2 linked regions of the Homo sapiens genome follow. The protein of the gene in region 2 interacts with the protein of the main gene of each other region in a pairwise test. Each region holds a gene or a part of one and is shown on either strand. Other genes may lie near its edges. The genes, in order: KCNJ6 and MAP1S.

What was found.
Region 1: the proteins of MAP1S (region 2) and KCNJ6 interact in a two-hybrid assay, tested with the Homo sapiens proteins (one large-scale study listed by BioGRID and IntAct).

What each region holds. Positions count from the first base shown.
Region 1 is NC_000021.9:37,609,645-37,612,761, reverse strand, and holds part of KCNJ6 (G protein-activated inward rectifier potassium channel 2), read left to right. Parts: 3' UTR 1-3,117. UniProt on the Homo sapiens protein: Inward rectifier potassium channels are characterized by a greater tendency to allow potassium to flow into the cell rather than out of it.
Region 2 is NC_000019.10:17,732,199-17,735,290, reverse strand, and holds the end of MAP1S (microtubule-associated protein 1S), read right to left. Parts: intron 2,099-3,092; coding exon 1,863-2,098; intron 1,025-1,862; exon of another isoform or gene 1,019-1,024; coding exon 863-1,018; 3' UTR 778-862; downstream 1-777. UniProt on the Homo sapiens protein: Microtubule-associated protein that mediates aggregation of mitochondria resulting in cell death and genomic destruction (MAGD). Plays a role in anchoring the microtubule organizing center to the centrosomes. Binds to DNA. Plays a role in apoptosis.

The sequences.
Region 1 (3,117 bases), on a different chromosome or scaffold from region 2:
GGTCTGTATTTAGACTCTTTTTTTTTTTTTTTTTTTTGCCTGTGGATGTGCAAATGTGCAGCTATTTCAACACCGTTTGTTGAAAAGACCCTCTTTGCCGCACTGTTTTGCCTGTGCTCCTTTGCCAAGGATCAGTTAACTATATTTGTGTGGGTCTGTTTCTCAGCTCTCCATTCTGTTCCACTGATCTATTTGTCTATTCCTTCACCAACACCACATCGTCTTGAGTACTGTAGCTTTCTTTCTCCATATAAACTGCAGACTCAGTTTTTTGGTACCAACAAAATAACTTGCTGAGATTTTTATTGGGATTGTATTTAATCTACAGAGGAAGCTGGGAAGTGACATCTTGACAATATTGAGTCCCTCCATGAAATGGAATATCTCTGTATTTACTTAGTTCTTCTTTGATATCATTCACCAGTTTTGTAGTTTTCCTCATGTAGATCTTATACATATTGTTAGATTTATACCTTAAGTACTTCATTTCAAGGGATACTAATTTAAATAATCATGTGCTTTTAATTTCAAATTTCACTTATTCATTGCCGGTATATAGGAAAACAATTGACTTTGTATATTAACTTTGAATCCTAAAATCTTGCTATAATCCCTTATTAGTTCCAGGAAGGTTCTGGGGCTTGTTTTTGTTTTGTTTTTTGGTCAGTTATTTCAGATTTTCTACATAGATGATCATGTCATCTGTAAACAAAGACAAAGTTTTATTTCTTCTTTCTTCCCAATCTATATATTTTTATTTCCTTTCCTTGTCTTATTGCATCAGCCAGGACTTCCAGTATCATGTTGAAAAGCAGTAGTGATGGGGACACCTTTTTTTTCCTGATCTTAGTGAGACAGCTTCAGGTTTCTCACCATCACGCCATTTAGTATGATGTTAGCTGTAAGGTTTTTTTTTTAGATATTGTTTATCAGGTTGAGGGGCTTCTCCTCTATTCCTGCTTTACTGAGTGTTTTTATCATGAAAGACTGTTTGGATTTTTCTGCATCTGTTGATATGATCATGCAATTTTTCTTCTTTTGCCTGTTGATATTCATTACATTAGTTGATCTTTGAATGTTGAACCAGCCTTATATACCTAGGACAAATTCCACCTGGTCATGGTGTTTAATTATTTTCATATATTGTTGGACTTGATTTGCTAATATTTTGTTGAGGATTTCTGCATCTATGCTTATGACAGGTATTGGTCTGTAGTTTTCTTGTAATGTCTTTGTCTGGTTTTGGTATTAAGGTGATGCTGGATTCATAGAATGAGTTAGCAAGTGTTCTCTCTGCTTCTAGCTTTTGAAAGAGATTGTAGATAATCAGTATCATTTCTTCCTTAAGTCTTTGGTAGAATTCACCAGTGAACCCATCTGGGCCAAGTGCTTTCTGGTTGGGGAGGTTACTAACCATTGATTCAAATTATTTAACAGAGATATACCTATTCAGATTGTCTATTTGCTCTTGTGTGAGTTTTGACAAATTCTATTTTTCAAGGAATTGGTTCATTTCATCTACATTATCAAATTTGTGGGTATAAAGTCATTCATAAAATTCCTTCATTATCTTTTATTATCCTTTTAACCTCCATGGGATTGCTAGTAACGTCCCCGCTCTCATTTCTGATAGTAGTAATTTGTGTTCTTTCTCTTTTTTTCTTAGTTAGCATGCCTTGAGACTTATGGAGCTTATTGATCTTTTCAAAGAATCAACTTTGTTTCTATTTATTTTATTGATTTCCTATTTTCAATTTCGTGAATTTTTAATCTAATTTTAATTATTTCTTCTCATTGGCTTACTTTGGGTTTAATTTGCTCTTTTTTTCTACTTTTTTAAAATGGAAACTTAAATGATTGATTTCAGATCTTCTTTTGTGCTATCTGCATTCAATGTTATAAATTTCCCTTTAAGCATTGTTTTTATTGCATCCCACAAATTATAATAAGCTATGTTTTTATTTTCATTTATTTCAAAATATTTTTTCACTTATCTTGAGATTTCTTCTTTGACCCATGATATTTACACGTGTGTTGTTTAATCTCCAAGTATTTTGGCATTTTCCAGCTACCTTTCTGTTACTGATTTCTAGCTTAATTCCATTGTTATCTAAGAGCAAACATTGTAGGACTTGTATTCCTTTTTTTTTTTTTTTTTTTTTTAAGACAGAGTCTCACTCTGTTGCCCAGGCTGGAGTAGAGTGGCATGATCTTGGCTCACTGCAACCTCTGCCTCCGGGGTTCAAGCGATTCTCCTGCCTCAGCCTCCCAAGTAGTTGGGACTACAGGTGCCCACCACCAAACCTGGCTAATTTTTGTATTTTTAATAGAGATGGGGTTTCAGCATGTTGGCCAGGCTGGTCTTGAACTCCTGATCCCAAGTGATCTGAGAATTTCTATTCTTTTAAATGTGTTAAGGTATGTTTTATGACCCAGAATGCAGTCTAACTTGATGAACATTCCATGCAAGCTTAAGCAAAAAGACTAATCTGCTGTAGTTTCCTCATCTTTTTCAACAAACATTTGAACCCCATAGTCTCTGCTTTAATAATTCTAGTATCCATTCCAACCTACACCACCATCAGTTCTAGACTGTACCTCTACACTAAATGACCCCAGATGGTTCAGCTTTAAGTCTCAGCTGTTTTCATCATTTAACTGATTCCCTTGCTGGCAGCAGGGAAATTAACTACCAGCCACACACTTGTCTCCAACAGCACCCACCGACCACGTCCTGCTCCCCTGTCATTACCACCACTAAACCCGGTAGCAGAGAGATGAGCTGTGAGGTAGGTGCCTTCTAGATAAATGAGGTGCTACTGGACATGCACTGTGGTCTTCTCTGCAGTAGAAAAATGTCCAAGGAAGGTCAGCATCATTGATAGAAAATAAATGTGAGGCTGCATCTCGCCAGCTCATCCATGAGCAATTCCTTCAGCTCCAGCAGGCTACTGACAATTTGCTTTTAACCCAAATCCAGCTCTACCCTCCCTAAAGCATGCACCTAGGGCCCCAGTCAGAAAAACAAAACAAAAACTAAACCAGACAGGATAATTAAGGAGGCAAAAAGCTTAAACCATAATATTTTAATTAAGCTGATTTATTTTAACCGTAGCA
Region 2 (3,092 bases):
GTAATCCCAGCTACTAGAGAGGCTGAGGCACAAGAATCGCTTGAATCTAGGAGGCGGGGGTTGCAGTGAGCCAAGATCGCCCCACTGCACTCCAGCGTGGGTGACAGAGCAAGACTCCATCTCAAAAAATAATAAAACTGTATCTGCAAAGATCCTTTTTCAAAATAACATCACATTCACAGGTGTCAGGGGTCAGGTGTTGAATGTGTTTTGGGGGCTGGCTGCCATTCAACCCAGTACAGATGACATTGTATCTAATAGTAAACCTAAGTGCTTGTATTTCTGCAGAGAGGGGTCAGGGTGCATTAGTCAGAAGTGGATATTCTGTAATCTCTGGGTTTCAGATTCCTCTGTAAATCCTTCCTGCAGAGTAAGACTTTCTGGAATAAGCATCCATCTCCTCTAGGGACAGCAGGATAGCTTTTGTTTGATGGCTTTGGAGCAGAGACAGGTATTCAATCTCCCCCTGCCACCAACTGGTTTGTGTGACAGATAGTCAGGTAGCTACTTCGCGCCTATAACTTGGGCCCCTCACAGTTGCTGAGTCGGGATGGAGGCCATAGTCAGGAGCTCCACCGGTCAGTGGTCATTAACTCTGAGAGGCACTTCCTTCCCCAAACCAGGCCCAGCGAAGCCTGCATTTCTCCCATCTGCGACATGGAGGCCAGAGTGGGCCTGACCGCAGGGTCACTGGGGATTCCATGGAAGCTGTCCCCACCCGCAGGACCAGGAGGTACATGCCAAGTCTCCCATCACAGAAAGAAGAGAGGCCACAGCCAAGTGTAGTCACAGTTTATTTCTGATGTGGCTGAATCTAGGGACAGGCGGGCTGGGCTGAGTGGGGGGCGTGTCGGCGATGGGGCTAGAACTCCACCTTGCAGGCCGGGAAGGCGTCATCCTGCATGGACACCATGCTGTTGCTGCCCAACACCGTGATGCCCAGCGCCTGGTGCCGGGCGTGCGTCTCTGCGTACCACGTATGCATGGCCACCGAGTCGAAAGTGGGGATCAGGGTCACCTGCAGGTGGAGGGGGGGTGTGTGGGGAGAGTGGACCACCAGTGAGGGGGGTGCCCCCTGCCCTTCTGGCCTGGGCCCAAGTCGCCTTCCTTTCCTGGCATTTGAGACCCCTCCTGGCTTTTCCCTGATCTTGTGTGCTCCACCTTGAGGTCTGCAATGGGTGGTCAGCCCGTCTGTGAGGTCCCTGTTCCTCCCAACCAGCACCCAAAGAGCCTTCTCAGCACACAGGAGACGGAGCTCCTCCTCTGCAAGGCCTTCCTTGGCCTGAGACCCCTCTCTACTCACTTGGATCTCCCCCTGCTCCTTGAACACACCAACCTCTTTCCTACCTCTGGGCCTTTTCCTGGGTCGTGCACCCTACAGGGACACTCCTTTGAAGCCAGCCTAGCAGCTATGAGAGGGCAGGGGCCGCGGTGTGAGGCGGTCCTCCCTCTGCCCACATGCACCTCGCCCTGCAGGGCTTGGTTTCAGTCTCTCAGCTTCATGCAGCCATGGGGGAGGGTTCTCAGCCGCACAGATACCACCCAGCCCACCTATTCCATCCCGACTAATTCTCACAGCGGAACAATGGCTAAGTGACAAGGTGTCTGGGGAAGGGATAGAACCATGAGGCTTCACGAGGCCCTGCGTCCTCCCCCAGGCTTCCAGCACAGCCAATGACAACAGTGACACGACAGAATCAGAGTCCGAAGAGACCCCTAAGGGCTGAGCCATGTGAGACTCCCACATTCGCCCCCATTCCCGTGTGGCCTGGGGAACACAGCTTAGTCTCTGAGGGTCGAGGGTGGTTTTACCCATCTGTGCTAACTACACTTACCACCAGAGGCCCTGGGGTGACACGCACCTGCAGGTCACGGTCCCAATGCTGCTTGCTGGCCAGTAGCGCGTCCAGGACGGCCCGCATGCCTTCCTCCTTGCGCTGGTCCTGGCCACTGATGACGTAGCAGAGCGCGCGCACGCGCTGGAAGAACTCCTCATCCACCAGGTGGGCGCTGCTCCCGCTGGGCAGGTAGGCCAGGTCCAGGTAGACCGGGGACTTGGGTGGGGTGGCTGACACCCCGGGCCGGCTGCTGGCTGACCCTGCGGGCGGGGGGATGGGGAGGCAGGGATGAGCTCCTGGGGCTGGGGAGGGGCCGAGGCTCCAAGTTCGACCTGCACCACTCAGAGCAGCTCCCTCCTCAGCAGGAGGCCTGAACTCAGAGTTTTCTGGGGAGGCCTGGTGCGCTCATGACTCCAGTGAATCTTATTTTAAGAAATGGGGTCTCGCTATGCTGCCCAGGCTCGTCACAAACTCCTGGGCTCAAGTGATCCTCCTGCCTCAGCCTTCCAAGTAGATGGGACTACAGGTGCATGTCACCACGCCTTGACTCCAGTGACTCTTCACTCACTCTACAAACACCACCGGCCACCCCTTTGTGCCTAGAGCCTGACTCATCCCCAGCCAGTCCCTGGACATAGACATCCCCAGGGCTGGGGGGCGAGTGGGTGGCAATCAGGGAATGCTTCCTGGAAGAGGGTTTAAGAGTTTGAGCCCTGAAAGCAGCCAGTGCCTGGACCATCTGCTGCTTCTGCAGCATTTGTCTGGTTCACTTGCTCAAGGGGCATTTAACAGAACCTCATGGGCACCAGGCCCTGAAACAGGGCTGTGACCAAGACAGACAGAATCCCTGCCCCAAGGGTGATGGGGAGCCAGGGTGGGTGGACAGAGCCTTGAGAGGCGGGCCCAAGATCACTGCGGGATGCTGGATGCGGATGAGACAGCAGCTCTGGGGGCCTTGTCCAAACCCTGACCTTAGGGCCAAAGGGGACAAGGCCACCAGCCCTGGGCAAGTGAATGATCAATGAAATGAAAGGATACGGCTGGGTCTCGGGCACAAGAAGCCTGCCAGACCCTGCATCTTACAATCACAGCTGCTGCCCAGCTCAGGGGGTAAGAGTACTACCCCGTCTGTATACCAACAAATGCATACCCTCAGCCGAAATGGACACATTCCTAGAAACACAAAAACTACCAAGACACAATCACAAAAATAGAAAATCAGCACATACCTGTAGCTAGCAAGGAGAATGAATC